4 separate regions of the Homo sapiens genome follow, and all the other regions are linked to region 3. The links come from fine-mapping of genetic effects on gene expression. A gene starts in region 3. Each other region holds a variant in brackets. All regions are shown on one strand. Distances are between the middles of the regions.

Region 1 (5,147 bases), 21 kb after region 3:
CCTGCCTCATATAGTATTAATAAGAGATAGCAAAAGATTTTTTTGTTTACCTTTTGAGTAAACTGCTGCTAAAAAAAAAAAAAAGGAGAAAAGAAACGGGGGAGAGGGAGAGACATTCTGTTGGTCTCAAGTTGTCTTTTTCAGGTCTTTTGTGTCAGGCCTCTGAGCCCAAGCTAAGCCGTCATATCCCCTGTGACCTGCATGTATACATCCAGATGGCCTGAAGCAACTGAAGATCCACAAAAGAAGTGAAAATAGCCTTAACTGATGACCTTTCACCATTGTGATTTGTTTCTGCCCCACCCTAACTGATCAATGTACTTTATAATCTCCCCCCACTTAAGAAAGTTCTTTGTAATCTCCCCCACCCTTAAGAAAGTTCTTTGTAATTCTCCCCACCCTTGAGAATGTACTTTGTGAGATCCACCCGCTGCCCACAAAACATTGCTCCTAACTCCACTGCCTATCCCAAAACCTGTAAGAACTAATGATAATCCCACCACCCTTTGCTGACTCTCTTTTCGGACTCAGCCCGCCTGCATCCAGGTGAAATAAACAGCCTTGTTGCTCACACAAAGCCTGTTTGGTGGTCTCTTCACACAGATGCGTGTGACATTTGGTGCTGAAGACCCGGGTCAGAGGGACTCCTTCGGGAGACCAGTCCCCTGTCCTCACCCTCACTCCGTGAAGAGATCCACTTACGACCTCGGGTCCTCAGATCAACCAGCCCAAGGAACATCTCACCAATTTCAAATTGGGTAAGTGGTCTTTTCACTCTCTTCTCCAGCCTCTCTTGCTACCCTTCAATCTCTCTGTCCTTCCAATTCCAGTTCTTTTTCCTCTCCAGTAGAGACAAAGGAGACACATTTTATCCGTGAACCCAAAACTCCAGGGCCGGTCACAGACTCAGGAAGACAGTCTTCCCTTGCCATTTAATCACTGCGGGGACGCCTGCCTGATTATTCACCCACATTCCATTGGTGTCCGATCACCGCAGGGACGCCTGCTTTGGTCATTCACCCACATTCCCTTGGTGGCAAGTCAATTGCGGGGACGCCTGCTTTGGCTGCTCACCCACATTGCAGCCCAGGGCTGCTCCCCACCCCCTTCTCCATATCTCTACCCTTCTCTTTAAACTTGCCTCCTTCACTATGGGCAAACTTCCACCCTCCATTCCTCCTTCTTCTCCCTTAGCCTATGTTCTCAAGAACTTAAAACCTCTTCAACTCTCACCTGACCTAAAATCTAAGCATCTTATTTTCTTCTGCAACACCACTTGGCCCCAATACAAACTAACAATGGTTCTAAATGGCCAGAAAATGGCACTTTTCATTTCTCCGTCCTACAAGACCTAGATAATTTTTGTTGAAAAATGGGCAAATGGTCTGAGGTGTCTTACGTCCAGGCATTTTTCACACTTCGTTCCCTCCCTAGTCTCTGTTCCCAATGCGACTCGTCCCAAATCCTCCTTCTTTCCCTCCCACCTGTCCCTTCAGTCCCAACCCCAAGCGTCGCTGAGTCTTGTGAATCTTCCTTTTCTACTGAACCATCTGACGTCTCACCTTCTTCCCAGACTGCTCCTCCTCAGCTCGCTCCCCACCAGGCTGAATCAGCCTCCAACTCTTCTTCAGCCTCTGCTCCCACATCCTATAACCCTTCTATTACCCGCCCTCCCCACACCCAGTCTGGTTTTCAGTTTCGTTCTGCGGCTAGCTCTCCCCCACCTGCCCAACAATTTCCTCTTAGAGAGGTGGCTGGAGCTGAAGGCATAGTCAGGGTACATGTGCCTTTTTCTCTATCAGACCTTTCCCAAATCAGCCAGCATTTAGGCTCTTTCTCATCAGACCCCACTAAATATATACAGGAATCCCGATATCTAACTCTGTCCTACAGTTTAACCTGGAGTGACTGAAATGTCATCCTGACTTCTACCCTCTCCCCAGATGAACGGGAAAGAGTTTTTTCTCTAGCCCAATCTCACGCTGATAACCGCCGGCTTCATGAACCTGACCTCCAGGAAGGCAGTAGAGCAGTTCCCCGAGAGGACCCCCAATGGAACTATCAGGCAGATTCCCCAGGTATGGCTAGGCGAGATTACATGGTTTCCTGCCTAGTTGAAGGGCTTAAAAAGGCAGCTTACAAAGCTGTTAATTATGACAAACTTAGAGAAACTACCCAAGGTAAAGACGAAAACCCAGC[T/C]CAGTTCATGGCCCGCTCGGCAGCAACCCTTACACACTTTACCGCCCTAGACCCAGAGGGGCCAGAAGGCCGCCTTATTCTTAATATGCATTTTATCACCCAGCTCCTGACATTAGAAAAAAGCTTTAAAAATTGGAATCCGGCCCTCAAACCCCACAACACGAATTAATCAACCTCCCCTTCAAAGTGTACAATAATACAGAGGAGGTAGCCAGGCAGCAACGCATTTCTGAGTTACAGCTGCTCGCCTCCGCTGTAAGACAGCCCACAACCACGTCTCCAGCATACAAGAACTTCAGAACATCCAAGCCACAGCTCCCAGGGGCTCCTTCAAAACATCCTCGTGGACCTTGCTTCAAATGCTAAAAGCCTGGCCACTGGGCCTCAGAATGCCCGCAGCCCGGGATTCCTCCTAAGCCGTGCCCTGTCTGTGCGGGCCCCCGCTGGAGGTCGGACTGTCCGACTCACATCACTGCCACTCCTAAAGCCCCTGGAGCCCAAACCCTATGTTCCTTGGCCGACTCCTTCCCAGATCTCCTCGGCTTAGCAGCTGAAGACTGACGTAGCCCGATCGCCTCAGAAGCCTCCTGGACCATCACAGACGCTGAGCTTCGGGTAACTCTTAAAGTGGAGGGTAAGTCCATCCCGTTTAATCGATATGGGGGCTACCCACTCCACATTATCTTCTTTTCAAGGGCCTGTTTCCCTCGCCCCCATAACTGTTGTGGGTATTGATGGCCAAGCTTCAAAACCCCTTAAAACTCCCCCACTCTGGTGCCAACTTGGACAACGTTCTTTTATGCACTCTTTTTCAGTTATCCCCACCTGCCCAGCTTCCTTATTAGGCTGAGACATTTTAACCAAATTATCTGCTTCCCTGATTATTCCTGTACTACAGCCACATCTCATTGCCCCCTTCTTCCCAACCCAAAGCCTCCTTTGGGTCTTCCTCTCATATCCCCCGACCTTAACCCACAAATATGGGACACCTCCACTCCCTCCCTGGCAACCAATCACATGCCCATTACTATCCCATTAAAACCTAATCACGCTTACCCCACTCAATGCCAGTATCACATCCCACAACAGGCTTTAAGGGGATTAAATCCTGTTATCACTTGCCTGCTACAGCATGGGCTTCTAAAACCTATAAACTCTCCTTACAATTCTCCCATTTTACCTGTTCAAAAACCGGACAAGTCTTACAGGTTAGTTCAGGATCTGTGCCTTATCAACCAAATTGTTTTGCCTATCCACCCTGTGGTGCCCAACCCGTACGCTCTTTTGTCCTCAATATCTTCCTCCACAACTCACTATTCCATTCTTGATCTTTAAAATGCTTTTTTTCACTATTCTCCTACACCCCTTGTCCCAGCCTCTCTTTGCTTTTACCTGGACCGATCCTGACACCCATCAGTCCCAGCAGCTTACCTGGGCTGTACTGCCGCAAGGCTTCAGGGCCAGCCCTCATTACTTCAGCCAAGCTCTTTCTTATGATTTACTTTCTTTCCACCCCTCTGCTTCTTGCCTTATTCAATATATTGATGACCTTCTACTTTGTAGCCCCTCCTTTGAATCTTCTCAACAAGACACCCTCCTGCTCCTTCAACATTTATTCTCCAAGGGATATTGGGTATCCCTGTCCAAAGCTCAAATTTCTTCTCCATCCATTACCTACCTCAGCATAATTCTTCATAACAACACATGCGCTCTCCCTGCGGATCGTGTCCGACTGATCTCTCAAACCCCAGGCCCTTCTACAAAACAACAACTCCTTTACTTCCTGGGCGTGGTTGGATACTTTTGTCTTTGGATACCTGGTTTTGCCATCCTAACAAAACCATTGTATAAACTCACAAAAGGAAACCTAGCTGACTCCATAGATTCTCAATCCTTTCCCCACTCCTCTTTCTGTTCCTTGAAGACAGTTTTAGAGACTGCTCCCACACTAGCTCTCCCTGGCTCATCTCAACCCTTTTCATTACACGCAGCCGAAGTGTAGGGCTGTGCAGTTGGAATTCGTACACAAGGACTGGGACCGCACCCTATAGGCTTTTTGTCCAAACAACTTGACCTTACTGTTTTAGGCTGGCTATCATGTCTCCATGCGGTGGCCGCTGCTGCCCTAATACTTTTGGAGGCCCTCAAAATCACAAACTATGCTCAACTCACTCTCTACAGTTCTTATAACTTCCAAAATCTATTTTCTTCCTCACACCTGACACATATACTGTCTGCTCCCCGGCTCCTTCAGCTGTACTCACTCTTTGTTGAGTCTCCCACAGTTACCATTGTTCCTGGCCCGGACTTCAATCCAGCCTCCCACATTATTCCTGATACCACACGTGACCCCCATGACTGTATCTCTATGATACACCTGACATTCACTCTATTTCCCCACATTTCCTTCTTTCCTGTTCCTCACCCTGATCACACCTGGTATATTGATGGCAGTTCCACTAGGCCTAATCGCCACACACCAGCAAAGGCAGGCTATGCTATAGTATCTTCCACATCTATCATTGAGGCTACCACTCTGCCCACCTCCACTACCTCTCAGCAAGCTGAACTCATTGCCTTAACTCGAGCCCTCACTCTTGCAAAGGAACTACGCACTACGCATCAATATTTATACTGACTCTAAATATGCCTTCCATATCCTGCACCACCATGGTGTTAAATGGGCTGAAAGAGGTTTCCTCACTACGCAAGGGTCCTCCATCATTATTGCCTCTTTAATAAAAACTCTTCTCAAGGCCGCTTTACTTCCAAAGGAAACTGGAGTCATACACTGCAAGGGCCACCAAAAGGCATCAGATCCCATCGTTCAGGGCAACGCTTATGCTGATAAGGTAGCTAAAGAAAGAGCTAGCATTCCAACTTCTGTCCCTCACAGACAGTTTTTCTCCTCCTCATGGGTCACTCCCACCTACTCTCCTGCTGAAACT
Region 2 (5,147 bases), 690 kb before region 3:
CTTGAAACTGCCTTATCTACAATCCAAAAAGCCCTGCGACGAGAAGTTGTTTTGTCAATATGCTGCAAACTCATTTGGCCCCCAAAATCTGACCTGAGCTGACGCGAGGCTCTTTGTAATCTTTACTCACCCCACTTGTGTGAATATTCATATGTTCCACTGCAGAAATATGAATGTGTTCCATTGCAGGTGTTGCCTGAGGCTCCACTGAAGCTATGGCATAATTTGCAGAATTTGCACTTCATTACTTTTCTGAAATTCAAACAAATTCTGAAACTGCACGAGTTCTGGCTGAGAGCTGTGGATCTGTGCATGTGAGTAGCTGCTGAAAACCCTCCTGGGTCACAGGAGGGCCCATGGGGGCCTCTGGCAGCCATCGCAGAGCCTGAAACCCGTTGTTTCCCCTTGGCTGGCTTCTGGTTTCTTGGCAGCCAGTGTCTTCTTAGCCACCTGGGGTTATGTTGGGTTTTGCTGGTTCAGGGGCAGGGGTTAAAGCTTAGGGCAGGGTGAGCCGAGGTACTCAGACATTTCTGATGTGAATTTAAAAGGAGAATTTTTTTTTAATGAATCATCAGAAGAAAGAAATCAGAAGGAAGTGTGTGACCAAGGAGAGGAAATTAGGGTTTGCAAATTGCATGAGTCACCCCCTTTCTGACTCCTGGGTGATCCCTTGCCCTTGGCACTTTTCACTCATCTCTGAGACTCTCAAGGCCGTATTCTGCATAACATGCTGGGGCTGTCATGGTTTTATTCTGGCTCCAAACCTGCTTCTCATTCTAGCCATCAGTATAAATTTCTAGTTTTGAATCACTGCCACGCTGTTTTACTTATTATTGTGTTAGCCAGTGTTTCTTCCCTGCCCAAGCCCTGCTCAGACTCCCGTTTCCCCATCTTAGTTAGCATCTACAACCCATTCTCCACCCAGAAGCCAGAGGCCAGTTTCTGAAGTGCAGCCCACATTCCGGGTTTCAGTCTCATCTCCCCAGTGTGGCCCTTGAAGCTCCCTTGTGATAAGGCCCTGCTTGCCTTTCTGTCTTATCTTGCACCGCCTTACTATTCCATGAATGGGCCCTTCCCTCCAGCTCCCAGGCTTTGGCAAATGCTGTTCCCACTGGCCTCTGCCCTCGCCTGGCTAGTTGTGTGCATGCTGCGGGTAGATCTGCTTAGAAGCCACCTCTTCCGTGAAGTCTTTTTACAAGGCCCTTGTCTAGGCCCCACGAACCTGGCTTCCCATCTACTTATCACCCACCCATATTCTGATTCCTGGTCCTGTCCCCTTCCCTAGACCATGAGCTCCGGGACAAAGACTGTGTGTCCACCAGGTGCAGTGGCTCAGGCCTGTAATCAGTCCTAGCACTTTGGGAGGCTGAGGTGGGTGGATCACCTGAGGTCAGGAGTTCGAGACCAGCCTGGCCAACATGATGAAACCCCATCTCTACTAAAGATACAAAAATTAGTTGGGCATGGTGGCGCATGCCTGTAATTCCAGCTACTCAGGAGGCTGAGGCAGGAGAATCGCTTGAACCCAGGAGGCCGAGGTTGCAGTGAGCTGAGATCATGCCACTGCACTCCAGCCTGGGTGAGAGTAAGGTTCTATCTTTAAAAAAAAAAAAAAAAAAAAAAGACTGTTTTCTGTATATCACTTTACCATCCCCAGCACTCAGAGTAAAAGGCTGTTTTAAGCAAGACTGTTTTAAGCCCTTGAGTGCTCGTCCCCTGCCTCTGGCTAGCTGTGTCTGCCTAAGAGTGGCCACCATATTGTCTTCCATTAGGCTGGAACCCGTTTCCCATGTCCGCAGTGGTGTGAAATATCCCAGTTGCATTGCAGTAAGTTTATTTTATGTGCATTTCCCCACTTGCCATTGAATCAGGTGTCCCTTTTTTCCCTTCCATATTTGTTTCTTAAGATATCGCCTCTTGTGTGACTTTTGTTTGAATCCCATGTCTTTTTGTCTGTTGGCATCTTGCTTTCTGTTTAATGTGACTGAGCCATTTCTACCTTGTATATATTAACTGTCTTATAGTTGGTGCTGATATTTTCTTAGTCTGATGTCCTTTTCATTTTGGTTTTATTATGTTTTCTTCCACAGAAGATATTAATGCATATATATTTGAATCTGTCAATCTCTCTTCCTCTGTGATTGCTTCGAGGGCTGAAGAAGTTATCCTGCTCCACAGATCTGATAAACATTCTGTTCTGTTTTCTGATTGTTTCCCTGTAACATGACTTTTTATGTTTAACTCTTTAATCCATTCGGAGTGCATGCATTTTGGTTGGTGTCTTGCAGTGGGTATCTAGTTCACTGTTCCTAAATAGGGACAGGATAACCCTCTTGTCCCCATTCTGTTTATTATATAATTAGCCCTTGTCTCTTTGTTTGCAAAAGGGGAGACAAAATATAGTAGCTGTTATAAGCGTGAGCTTTAGCAGAATTAAGATTTTGGCTTTGCCACTTTCTGTGTGAGCTATGAGCACGTTGCTTAAATTGGGCTTGTTTTTTCCTCTGTAAAACTGGATGATATCTTCCTCCTAGGACCGTTGTCAAGATTGAGCAGAAGATCATGTGCAAAGCACATCACATGTTACCTGGCATAAAGTAAATGCCCTCTTTTTTTTTTTTTTTTTTTTGGCTTAAACAAATATTTATTTTCTCACAGGGCTAGAGGTCAGAAGTATGAGATCAAGGTGTTG[G/A]CAGGGTTGATTCCATCTGAGGCCTCTGTATTAGTTTGTTCTTACACTTCTATAAAGACATACCTGAGACTGGGTAATTTATGAAGAGGTTTATTTGGCTCACGATTCTGTGAGCTGTACAAGCTTCTGCTTCTGGGGAGGTCTCAGAAAACTTACAACCGTGGCAGAAGGTGAAAGGGTGGCAGGTACACTTCACATGGCCAGCAGGAGAGACAGAGCAAGTGGGGAAGCGTTACACACTTTCAAACAACCAGATCTCATGAGAACTCACTATCACGAGAACAGCAAGGGGGATATCCGCCCCCAAGATCCAATTACCTCACCATGTCCCTCCTCCAAAATTGGGCATTACAATTCGACATGAGACTTGGGTGGGGACATAGAGCTAAATCATATCAGCCTCTCTCCTAGGCTTGCAGGTGGACAGCTTCCCCTTGTGTCTTTACGTGGTCTTCCCTCTGAAATGCCCTCCTTAATCTTGATACGTTTCCATACCTAGTTGGGTCCAACATTGTACTTTTCCTTCTGTTTCATTGATTTTAGAATTCTTGTTTTCTGTTACTGCCACACTGCTTTAATTGTGGCTTCACGGAATGTTTCACTCTCTGGCCAGATTGGGCATCCTTCCATTACTCTTTCTTTAAGAATATTGCTTTAAACACGCACCTGTTTTCTTTAGTGGATGTTGATTTTCTCTCTCACATTCTGTACTGTAGCCTACCTCAGTGACTTCTAGACACCCCTTCTTCCCCTTCCCCAGCACACATACCGGTTTTCCCCCAACCTGGCTGCCCAGCCTTTGCTCACTCTGGACCCACTACCTCACAGGTATGTACCAACTGCTCTCACCTGGCCTATCTCCACCTTAGTGCTTTATCACCCCCCTCCAGGTGCCATTATGCAGATACCCATTTTCCCTATGGACCTGAGCTTCCCTGGGAATTGGTTCTAGGTCCCTAGTGCCCCTCTGCACCTGGCATATGGCCAGGTACATTGTAGGTGCTGAGGTCAGGGCTTGGGGAAGACAGGAATGTTCACCGTGCCCTTGGGCTTTTGACAGTAACTGGGCTAAATCTGGCTTCTTCTGGAGGTGCAGGCTTACAGGACTCAACAATTTGGTGGTTGTAACCCTGGACATGCTCTTGCCAATAACGGTGGGCCATCCATCAGCCCTGGCCTTGGTTTCCCCAGTGGGATTTGCAGAAGCCAGAGGATTAAAGCCCTCCCAGCCCTGAGGCCTCATTATTTATCTTAGTGGGTCCACAGTGAAGATGAATTAGAATAACTCATTGGCACATGCCATGCCTTGGAGTGCAGTTTTCTGTTTTCTGGGAGAGAAAAGGCCTCTTAGGACAGAGCCCCCCACTGCCCTCCTGGGTCTCCAGGAGACAGCCCAGATCTGGGTCAGAAGGGTTCAATAGTCAAGAACAGAGGGGTGGCTCTCTGCCTGGGAAGGCAACTGGGGTGAAAGCGGGGAGCTGGCCTTTCTCTGCATACTGCTAGGTAGCATGCAAAACCCTGCCTGTTCCATTCCTGTTCTCCAGGGGAGGAATCTGAGGACGAGAGGGGTAAGATCCCTGCCCACTGCCATGCAGCAGCTTAGTGCAGAGCCTGGACTTGAACCTAGATCTGCCTGCTTCCAGAGCTGTGCTGCACCAGTGTTCTCGCAGCTCCCAGTCCAAAGGCCGACGTTGAGACAGCGCTTAAAAATATATCAGCAGTGTTTACAAATACCATTTCCTGTGTTATCTGGTACTGACAGAAGGAAGTGAACCTGGCACTTTGTCTGTGTTAGGTTTGGGGTTAGAGGCATAAGTGCCAAGTTCAGATGACCTAGAAAAACCTTTCTAGGTCAAATTACAATTTCAAAGATTTCTTTTCTTCTTCTTTTTGAACCGCTCCAAGATCGAACGCTGTCGTTGACATATTTCCCTTCCGACAACACGAGCCTTTTGTGGCATGATTGAGGGCTTGTTTTGTAGTGCTGGGGAGAAAATATCTTCCACATCATCTGCTCATTGTCTCAGTCACACTCGTTCCCCCCACACCACAGTGCAACCCGACGTACGCTCATGCGGCTTTTAGTTAATTGCCTTTGGTAAGAATCAGTTTTGGGACTTGTTCCCAACTGCTTGGATGATAGATAATTGTCAAATACAAATATTGGCAGCGCAGGGCAACCTGAGGCTCTAGACTGCTGACTGCATCCCAGCCTCTAGGGAGAGCTGGGAGCTGGCCAGCTCCATGTTATGGGAGGTAACGGGGCAAGACCTGGCAGGAGTACAGCCTTCTCATTAGAGTGTAGGCTCTGGAGTTGAACTTCCTGGGTTTGAATCTTCATTCCACCCCTTCCTAGCTGTGTGGCCTTGGGCAAGCTACATAACCTCCCTCGACCTCAGTCTCCTTTTCTGTAAAATGGGAGCCTCAGTAACTTACCTTGTGAGGTTGTCGTGAG
Region 3 (5,147 bases):
GCGCTGCCCTGCTCTGCTTTCTTCTAGCTGACCAGGTCCCAGGCCTCAGCTGGTGGCAGGTATGAGAAGCTGAAGGACACAGCAAAGGCTCCTGTCTCAGGAGGTTTGCACCTGGGGCACTGGCACCTCTATCCCCAAAGGCTTCTGCAGAGGTAGTTTAGGAAAGATGGTTAGAGGCATGGGATTTCGAAGCCAGCCTCCCTTGGACTCAAACCCCAGATTGGACATTTCCTAGCTGTGTGATCTTGGGCCTAGTTAACCTCTCTGTGCCTGGATTAAATAAAAAATGCAGATAATGTGTTTAGAACGGTGCCTGGCACAGAAACATCAACACTCCATTAGCTGCAGCTAGTAATGCTAATAATTATAACTGTCATCTGTCCCTCCCACAAGAGGGCAGGGAGCTGGCTCTGGTCACAGTGGCTCTGAGATTCACACTCCTTCCCACTTCTCCTGCCAGCTCACACAAGTTCCTCCTCACAATCATACAAGATTTGTCACGCCTCAAACACATGGCAGGTAACATTCTACCTTCACTCTCAAGCATCACCTTGTGGCCTTGGGACTCAGGACACGGGACACCCACATAAGCAGCTGATGTTCCATCCTCCAGGTGTGGACACTGAGGTCCCAATAGGGAAAATGATCTGCCAGCTTGAATCAGATGGGAGGACTGAGCAAGGCCAAAAAATGGGGATAATAATATGAGCCCCTCCCTTGATGGGCTGTTACAGAAGAACTGCAAGGATCCAATGGGTGTCTGCAACAAGTGCTCTAGAAGTGGGCCCTGCTGTTCTCTCCATAACTCCCAACATGTTCGCAATCAAGGAGCCTTTTTTTTTTTTTTTTTTTTTTTGAGACAGCGTCTCACTCTGTCACCCAGGCTGGAGTGCAATGGCGAGATCTCGGCTCACTGCAAGCTCCACCTCCTGGGTTTATGCCATTCTCCTGCCTCAGCCTTCTGCGTAGCTGGGACTACAGGCGCCCGCCACCATGCCCAGCTAATTTTTTATATTTTTAGTAGAAATGGGGTTTTGCCATGTTGGCCAGGCTGGTCTCGAACTCCTGGCCTCATGATCCACCCACCTTTGCCTCCCAAAGTGCTGGGATTATAGGCGTGAGCCACTGCACCCCGCCAATCAAAGAGCTTTGCTATTGCCATAGGATTCACATCAGGGTACAGTGGGTCCCCAGCCCAAGGGCAGAGGGAGCCCAGAGCATTTAATAAAAAGACTGCAAAGGGGAGGCGCCAATCATGGGCCCCAGCTCCAGTAAGACGTGAAGGAGGCAGGGGTGGGGGTAGGAGGGCTTGTACAGCACCTCAGTGCTTCCAGCTTCTGACGGGGAGTAGCTGAGCATTTTCCCTGGGCTGGGGGCATCAGTAGTGGGGGCCAGGCCTCACCCTCCTCAGAAGGTAGGTGGGCTCTCCACAGCCTGTCTCCCTCACTGACACATGCACACTCACTGGATTCTCACCGGCACTTTTGTGATAGCTGTCATCATCATTCACACCTATTTCTTTTCTTTTCTTTTTCTTCTCTTTTTTTTGAGACAGGGTCTCGCTCTGTCTCCCAGGCTGAAGTGCAGTGGCACCATCACACCTCACTGCAGCCTCAACCTCCTGGGCTCAAGCGATCCTCCCGCCTCAGCCTCCTGAGTAGCTGGGACTACGGGAGTGCACCACCACACACACTTCCCCTAACTTTTTTTATTTTTTGGAGAGACGGGGTCTAGTTTTGTTGTCCAGGCTAGTCTCAAACTCCTGGACTCAAATGATCCTCCCGCCTCAGCCTCACAAAGTGCTGGGATTACAGGCGTGAGCCAACCTCCTGGGCCACTCACACCTATTTCTTAGAAGGGTAAGTTGAGGCTGACTGCAGCTGACTCCTTCCCCAACCACTCTCACACCCTACTGGCTGACTCACCCTGCTTGGCAGACTCCTGGGCCCCTCCTCTCGGACTCTGCGACAGGCCAAGGGGGTCCAGACCCTCCCTGACCCCAACAGTCCCAAGACGCCACAGCTGGTGGGCGGAGAAACAAGGGGATTCTCCCCTGGGGCCAGTGGCCATGGCTTGGCCTCGAGTGAACCCTGCTAGGGCCCCAAACCCAGGGCCTACCTAGCTCCTGTTCTTCCCGCGCGGGGGAAGGGGGGTGCTCTGCTCCCCTCCCTCCCCTTTCTGGCAGGGCTCACGGTTCTTCCCCGGGGCGCATCCACAAACCTGAGCTCCTTGGCGCTCACCACCATAACGCTGGCGTACAAAGCTGCTTCCATTCACTGAGCACTCAGTAGGCGCCGGGCACAGCACTAGGTGCCTATCCGGCGTAGACATCGGGCCTGATCATACAGCTGAGCTTCAGAGACCTCAAGTCCCTGCCCAGGCCCACACAGCGCTCAGCGGTGCTAGGATGCCCACTTGACAGACAGCGAAACTGAGACCCAGAGGGGTCAAGTCAGGGGCAGAAGCAGACTCTGGAGGCCTCCGGGTTCTGGACCTTCTCTGCCCCATTGTCCCTGATTAGCCCGCAAGCAAGCCACGGCCTAAGCCGAAGGAAGAACTCGCCTGCAGGAGCCCCCGTTCGTTCCCAGGGTTTGGACGCCCCGGGCTGGGCCCCGCTAAGCCCCTCGGGCCGCCCAGGCGCCGGACCCCCGTCCCCGGAGCCCCCGCGCGCGCTCACTTTGGGCTTGTCGAAGGCGGGCGTCTGGGCCATGGTGCCCTCGTGCGCCCCGGCGCTGCTCCCTCCGCCGCCGCTCGGTGGGTCTCTGCCGGCTCGGTGGCCGCTCGGCTTTCCCTGGGGCCAGCGGTGGCCGCGGCCGGCCACGCTCTTCTTAACGGGCCGGGCCCCGCCTCCCGCCCCGCCCGCCGCCGTTCCCGGGGCCCGCCCTCTCGCCGGAGCCCCCGCCCCGCCCGCCGGCCTGGATCGCGCATTTCCTGGAATTCTGGACCCGGCGTCCTCGCCCGCCGACCCGAAAACTACGGCCCCGCGGCGCCCGACCGGACCCACCTGTGGGCGCGCGCTCCAGCCGCCTCGCTGGGCGCTGCCTTCCCCCCGGCTCCTCCAGCAACTTTCAAGCGTCCCCCTGCAGTCTGGGCGCTGCTGTGCGCCAGGCCCAAGCTAGAAGCGGGGACCCCGGGAGCATCGCAAGCCTCGAGCGGCGTGCCTTCCACCGGATAGACGGACGCTCGTCGCAGAAACACACACCATAATTGTATAGTTAAGGAACTTTCGAGGGGGGCCAGCCGTGGCCTGCAGAACCTGCAGGAGTTCATCAGGGGTGGGTGGGGGTGGAGAGGACATTCTACGTGAGAGACTCCAGGGAGCTGGGAGTGAAAGGAGGCGAGGAAGGCTGGAGCTCGGAGGGAGGGAGAACACAGACAGTCCCCTCCTGGGCATTCACCTTTAAGAAACCCGCCCAGGCGCAGCCAGAGACCTGTGCAGAATGTTCACACCAGCGCTATTCCGAATAACAGGAACATTGGAAACACCCTCAAATGCCCCTCCACGGGCGAGTGGGCAAATAAACCGGAATATTCACACCATGAAACGTTAGACAGCAGTGAAACGGAATGAACTTCAGCCAGACAACAACAGAAACAATGTCTCAGAAACAATGTTGAGTGAAAAAAACTAAGTTGCGGAAAACTGCATACAATGGTGCAACTTTTAGAATGTGTAAAAGCAAAACCAAAAGTATGTATGTTTAGACACATGCATCGGTGGAAAAAATGTAAAGCAAGGGAAAGATGAGCATAGATACGAGAAGAGTGGTTATCTCAGGTGAAAGGGAAGGAGCCGGGAGGAGGTAAGGACGGAGGGAAATAACACGCGGGTACAGGTTATTTATTTATTTATTTATTTATTTATTTATTTATTTATTTATTTACTGAGACGGAGTTTCGCTCTTTCGCGGAGGCTGCAGTGAAGTGGCGCGATCTGGGCTCACTGCAACCTCTGCCCCTCTGGCCCGCCTCCTCCCCACCGCTCCCCCGCACCCCCAGCGTTTCAAGCGATTTTCCTGTCTCAGCCTCCCGAGTAGCTGGGATTATAGGCGCCCACAACCACGCCTGGCTAATTTTTGTTTTTTGTTTTTTTGTTTTTGTTTTTGTTTTTTTGAGATGGACTCTTGCTCTGTCGCCCAGGCTGGAGTGCAGTGGCGAAATCTCGGCTCACTGCAACCTCCACCTCCTGGATTTTAAGCAGTTCTCGGCCTCAGCGTCCCGAGTAGCTGGGATTACAGGCGCGTGGCACCGTGCCCTGCTAAGTTTTGGATTTGTAGTAGAGACGGGGTTTCACCATGTTGGCCAGGCTGGTCTCGAACACCTGACCTCACATGATCCACCCACCTCGGCTTCCCAAGGCGTGATTACAGGCATGAGCCACCACGCCTGGCCACACACAGGTTATTGATAATGTTCCAGTACTGGGGTGGATGGTAGCTTCATTTCATTTCATCATAAATAAATTAACAAACCCATAAACAAGGGGGAAAGAGAGAGTGGGAGAGTGGAGAGCAAGGGGCTAGAAGGTCTGATGGGAGCTGAATCCTGCCAGGGATGTGGGACCCAGCGATGGTGTGGGATTCCTAGGAAGTCAGTGGAGTGTTTTAAGTGGAGGCGAGACAAAATCACCCTTTTATTTGGAAAAAATATTCTCCAGCTACTGAAAGTGTGATCCAGGGATCATCAGCACCCACATCACCTGGGAGCTGACTACAAATGCAGACTTTCAGACCCCATCCCAGACCTACTGAAGTAGAATCTGTATTTTATACAAACAGGACCCCCAGGTGGTTCGCACCCACAGGGCACTTTGAGAAGCCTGGGCTCCCTGCTGTGAGGGGAGGGCATTACAGGGGGCCAGCGGGGGTGAGGGAGGACAGGATACCAGGAAGGAGGCAACTGCCATGGTCTGGGTAGGGCATAGTGATGTCAGTGGGGGAAGTGGAGAAACTCATATTCAAGCTGCATTTAGGGTGTAAAATCAGCTGGATTTGGGGTTTGGTTGTATGTGGGAGTGAGGGAGAGGGTGGCTGTATTAGTCCATTATTTTCATGCTACTGATGAAGACATACCCGAGCCTGGGCGCAGTGGTTCATGCCTGTAATCCCAGGACTTTGGGAGGCCAAGGCAGGAGGATCACCTGAGGT
Region 4 (5,147 bases), 30 kb after region 3:
TGGTGGACAGGATTGAGAGCTGCCTTGGAGAGGCCTGAGTCAGATCTGTTTGCCAGATCAGCCTCCACTGGGTTTCTACTGGAGGGGCCATACACAGGGAGATGCAGGGAGAAGGCCTGAGGGAGAGATAGAGAGCCCTGATTGTGAGCTGTGGCTGCCCAGGCCAGATAATGGCAGGGGAGAGAGGAGGCCCCGATCCTGGGCCCCTGTCTGTGCTGTCGGCCTGGTGCGTTAGCTCCTGGTGCCTTCTAAAGAGGCAACAAAAGTACTTCAAATTGAGCATGAGCTTGGGTTCAAATCACACCTCTACCGCTAAAAAACTAAGTGCCGTTGGGCCAGTTACTTAGTCATTCTGAATCTCAGCGTCCTTATCTGTAAAATGGGGAAAATAAGCCAATAGGGTTATTGTGAAAGATACATGAGATTAATGAGTCTTGGCGATAGTCCCTGCTCCCAGTAAATGACGGCGTGCATTTTTATTGTCATCTTGGGTCTCCATCCTTTTTAAAAAAATACTTGATTATAACAGCTTTATTGAGATAAAATTCACATGCCATACAATTCACCCATTTAAAGTGTACAATTCAGGCAGGGTGTGGTGGCTCATGCCTGTAATCCTGGCACTTTGGGAGGCCGAGGCGGGCAGATCACTTGAGGTCAGGAGTTCGAGACCAGCCTGGCCAACATGGTGAAACCCCATCTCTACAAAAAATACACAAATTAGCTGGGCATGGTGGTGGGCGCCTGTAATCCCAGCTACTCGGGAGACTGCGGCAGGAGGATCGCTTGAACCCGGGAGATGGAGGTTGCAGTGAGCCAAGGTCATGCCACTACACTCTAGCCTGGGCAACAGAGCAAGACTCTGTCTCAAAAACAACAACAACAGATAAAGTGTACAATTCAATAGTTTTTTATATATTTGTCACAATCAATTTTGGCACTTTTTCATTATCCCCCACAGAAACCCTGTACCTATCAGCAGTCAGTCCTGCAGCCGACCCCCCTCTGGCCCCAGGTAACTGCCAATTACTTTCTGTCTCTATGGATTTGCTCTTTCTAGATGTTTCATAGAAAAGAAGTCATGCAACATGGGGTCTTTTTTTTTTTCTTTTGAGACAGGGTCTCCTTCTCTTGCCCAGGCTGGAGTGCAACAGTGCAATCACAGCTCACTGCAGCCTCGAACTCCAGGGCTCACATGACCCTCCCTGCTCAGCCTCCCAAGTAGCTGGGACCACAGTGCACCGCCATGCCCAGCAAATTTTTAAAAAATTGTTTGTAGAGATGGGTTCTCCCTATGTTGCCCAGGCTAGTCTAGAACTCCTGGGCTCAAGTGATCCTCCCACCCTGGCCTCCCAAAGTGCTGGGATTACAGGCATGAGCCAGTGCGTCCAGGCCTGTGGTCTTTTATGACTGGCTTTGTTCACTTTTTTCATCCCTGTCAGCAATGTATGAGAGTTCTGATTTCTCTGATTCCTTACCAACACTTATTATTGTTTGTCTTTTTTATTGTAGCCATCCTCGTGGGGGTGTGTAGTGGGATCTCATTGTGGCTTTGATTTGCATGGCCTTGACGGTTAATGTTTCTGGTTTTTTTCAGTGGAATCCCCTTTATAAATTCTGGGACACCCTATTCCCAGTGTGGAAACACTAACCTGTTCCAAAGAAAGAAAAAAAATTCTAGATGGAAAAAGATGTTCATTACTGCGACATAACATTTCTTAATACAAGTGACTCGTCTATAGCAGTAGGTAGTTCCTAATTTTTTTTTTTTTTTGAGACAGAGTCTTACTTTGTCACAGGCTGGAGTGCAGTGGCATGATCTCAGCTCACTGCAACCTCTGCCTCCCGGGTTCAAGTGATTCTCCTCCCTCAGCCTCCCAAGTAGCTGGGACTACAGGAACATACCACCACTCCCGGCTAATTTTTGTATTTTTAGTAGAGATGGGGTTTCACAATGTGGAAACACTAGGCCACATTGTGAAATGTGGCCAGGATGGCCTCCATCTCCTGACCTCATGATCTGCCCACCTC[G/A]GCCTCCCAAAGTGCTGGGATTACAGGCGTGAGCCACCGCGCCTGGCCTATTATCTTTAATAATTATAAATACTGGGCTGGGCGTGGTGGCTCATGCCTGTAATCTCAGCACTTTGGGAAGCCAAGGTGGGCAGATCACTGGAGGTCAGGAGTTCAAGACCAGCCTGGCCAACATGGTGAAAACTCATCTCTATTAAAAATACAAAAATTACCCTGTCATGGTGGTGCATGCCTGTAATCCCAGCTACTCAGAAGGCTTAGGCAGGACAATCGCTTAAACCTGGGAGGCGGAGGTTGCAGTGAGCCGAGATTGAGCCACTGCACTCCGGCCCAGGCGAGAGAGTCAGACTCCATCTCAAAATAATAATAATAATTATAATAACTATAAAGACCAGCTATCATATGGAAAATGTCCCTGATGTGTGAACAAATGCAGGATGGAAAAATACTCAGTGTAGTCATTTTAGCTAATATATATTTGTTAAAACATCCAAATATTTTTTTCGAGCTCGGCGCTGTGTGCCAAGCTCCATGCTGGCTCATGGACAAAGTCAGGAAAAGAACAAGCAAAAATGAAATTCCTTCTTGTGTCGGGAGTGGTGGGGTTTTGGGGGACAGGTATCTCCCCTTCCCCATGTTTTCTTCTCAAACTTCCTCCACTGTTGTTATATTACCTTTGCAGTGATAAAACCAAGAGAACAGAAGAAATACTTCTGGACCTAAGGATGAAAGAATGATGGGAGAAACATTTCTTGAGCCAGTCCCTTTCTGCGTTCTTATTTTGTGGAATCCGCACACATCCCCGAGAAGCTTAATAAAAAGGGCTACTATCATGACACTTACTGTGTGCCTTGCCGGTTCCACCTGTTAGGTGCCATTGTTGTCCCCATTTTACAGATGAGGAAACTGAGGCGGGGCAAGGAGATGCCCTTCTGCTTGGTGGTCTATCCTTCAGCATTACCCACACACATGCAGAGCTACATATAAGCTCACGTTCACACTCGGATTCACGTCTGCACCCATGGGCACATGGAGGATCGCACAAGCCACACTCAGACACACATGTGTGCTCACACACAGGGCTGCCCATGTCCACAGGTATGTGCATGGGGACACGCATGTATATATGTGCATATTCCCATATGCACACAGCACAGGTCAAACACTTTTGGACACACATCTGCCTGAGAATGGGAAAAGGGGTGCAAGATAAAGGGGCAAAGTCTGGCTTTTGCCTCCTCCCTGCACCTGCTACCAGCTGTGTGCAGGACTGGGTGGGGCAGAAATAGGTGGCTCTGAGCTCAGAGGGCAGAGGTGGCCTTGCACTAGAAATCCACCTGCCAAACTTCCAAATGGGCTACAGCGACTAAGGGGCCTCACCTGCTGGGCAAATCCCCCAGCTGGAGGGTGTGCTCCAGATCCTCCAGGGGTCCCCAGGGGGTTGAGAAGATGAGGGGCACACCCAGCAGCCCCTAAGGGAGGAAGCGTGGCCATACTGGCTAAGGGGGCGCACTCTTCTTGCAGGCCGCCTGATCAGATGCCTGTAAAATAAGACAGCTTTACAAAGAGGGTGTCGGAATGTGAGGAGGCAGAGGGACAGGCATGAGTAGAAAGACCTTCCTCAGGACCTGAAGTCCAATGATCCTGGTCCTGCGTCCCACTAGCTAGGTGATATTGAACAAGTCACATAACCTCTTTGAACCTCAATTTCCTCATTTGTAAACTTTGCACAAATCATTTCTTTGACTGCTAAACAAGTATGTTTTGAGGACCAACGACATGCCAGGTACGGTGCTGGGCACTGGGAAAACAGCAGCAAGCAACACAGACATGGGCTTGCCGTGTAGAGCCTGCAGAATTAGGGAAAGGATAAATGGAAACATCTCACACATAGTAAGTGCTCAGTTACGTTCCTCCTGGTCTCTCTTTTCTACCATTGTAAAGGCGATGCAATAACATAGAAAGTTGGGAGAATGGGGTGGCGGTTGCTGAGGGGGGAACTCTGTCATCCAGAATCCCACCACCCCAACACAATGACTAGCTTCATTTTTGCCAATTTCATCAGCTCATGCAGGGGTTGACCTGCTGTAGGGCACTCAAAATATTCAAACCAATTAATGCATTGCATTTGTGATCAGAAGAAAAAAGCTAATTACAATGTAACAGATTTACCTGATGCAAAGCAACGCAAGCATGGCCATCCCTCTGCATATATGGAAGCTTTTCCTTTTGGGGGAAACAGCAATATTTCCATTTTACGGAAAAAGAAATGGAGGCACAGAGAGGTCAAGGCACTTGCCCAAGGTCACACAGACAGAAATGCGAAGAGCAGCTCCAGAGGCCAGAACTCCTGCCCATCCTGTCCAGGACTGTGGGATGCATCCAGGGACGGACACTGGGGCTGTGGGCTGGATGACTTGGCTGCCTTTGCATTGATTGGAGCTGTTTAGGGAACCTACCCCAGCCACTAGCATCCAGTCCTAGAGACACAGAAAATTCACTGGCCAGCCTCACTTTTGAGCCCAGAAACCCCTTACCCTTCCTCCTGCCTCTTGAGAGGCCAGTGTTAGGTGTTAGCCGGGGTGCAAAGCTCTGGAAGGCAGGTTTCTGCTTTCTGCTGCCCTCCAGTGGGCAAAGAAAGCAAACCTCTGGATCCATCTGGAAGCAGGTAGCAGGTGTTGCCCAAGTCAGCTGCGGCTAATAGTAATAATAATGGCTGCCGCTCAATGAGCACTTACCACGTGCAGACGTTTTTACACCTAATCTAATGTAACCTAACCCCTTTAAGCAATTTAATTAACATTTAATTCCTCTCTCAAGGTAGGAATCACTTCCTATATACCCATTTACATACATAATCTGAGACTTAGAAAAATGACTTCCCAAAGTCACAAAGCTGGTCAGTGGCAGAGCCGAGAGTGCAAGTCCTTGGAGATCAGAGGAGGAAGAGACCATGATCCTGGACCAGGAGACAGCCCTGCATTCTTGGGCACAGAGGTGAATTTACTGTGAGGCTGGTGACGCATCAGGGCTCCTGACTTGCATGTCCTCTCCCAGGGCCATGGAGGAACTTTCCAACGCATTCGCATGGGCATATGTTTCACATTTGCAAAACT

The links.
Region 1: its variant is fine-mapped to the expression of ADA in whole blood (TOPMed, PIP above 0.99).
Region 2: its variant is fine-mapped to the expression of ADA in whole blood (TOPMed, PIP above 0.99).
Region 4: its variant is fine-mapped to the expression of ADA in adrenal gland (GTEx, PIP 0.91).

Annotation. Positions count from the first base shown.
Region 1 is chr20:44,670,077-44,675,223 of GRCh38, forward strand. LINC01260 (long intergenic non-protein coding RNA 1260) reads right to left here and starts at 1,663. Exons shown (of 5, transcript NR_034104.1): 1 at 1,563-1,663. RefSeq lists enhancers at 402-903, 904-1,403. The variant T/C (reference allele first, on the strand shown) is at 2,200.
Region 2 is chr20:43,954,959-43,960,105 of GRCh38, forward strand. All of the region lies in intron 1 of TOX2 (TOX high mobility group box family member 2), which reads left to right. Among named protein-coding and RNA genes, the nearest start is that of TOX2, 43 kb to the left of the region's middle. RefSeq lists enhancers at 1-880, 492-541, 1,014-1,648, 4,311-4,605 and a silencer at 4,311-4,605. The variant G/A (reference allele first, on the strand shown) is at 2,693.
Region 3 is chr20:44,648,898-44,654,044 of GRCh38, forward strand. It overlaps ADA (adenosine deaminase), which reads right to left and starts at 2,802. Exons shown (of 12, transcript NM_000022.4): 1 at 2,678-2,802. The coding sequence starts at 2,710. RefSeq lists enhancers at 2,251-2,360, 2,591-3,574 and a silencer at 2,611-3,000.
Region 4 is chr20:44,679,066-44,684,212 of GRCh38, forward strand. No RefSeq gene overlaps it. Among named protein-coding and RNA genes, the nearest start is that of LINC01260, 9.9 kb to the left of the region's middle. RefSeq lists a silencer at 4,522-4,581. The variant G/A (reference allele first, on the strand shown) is at 2,032.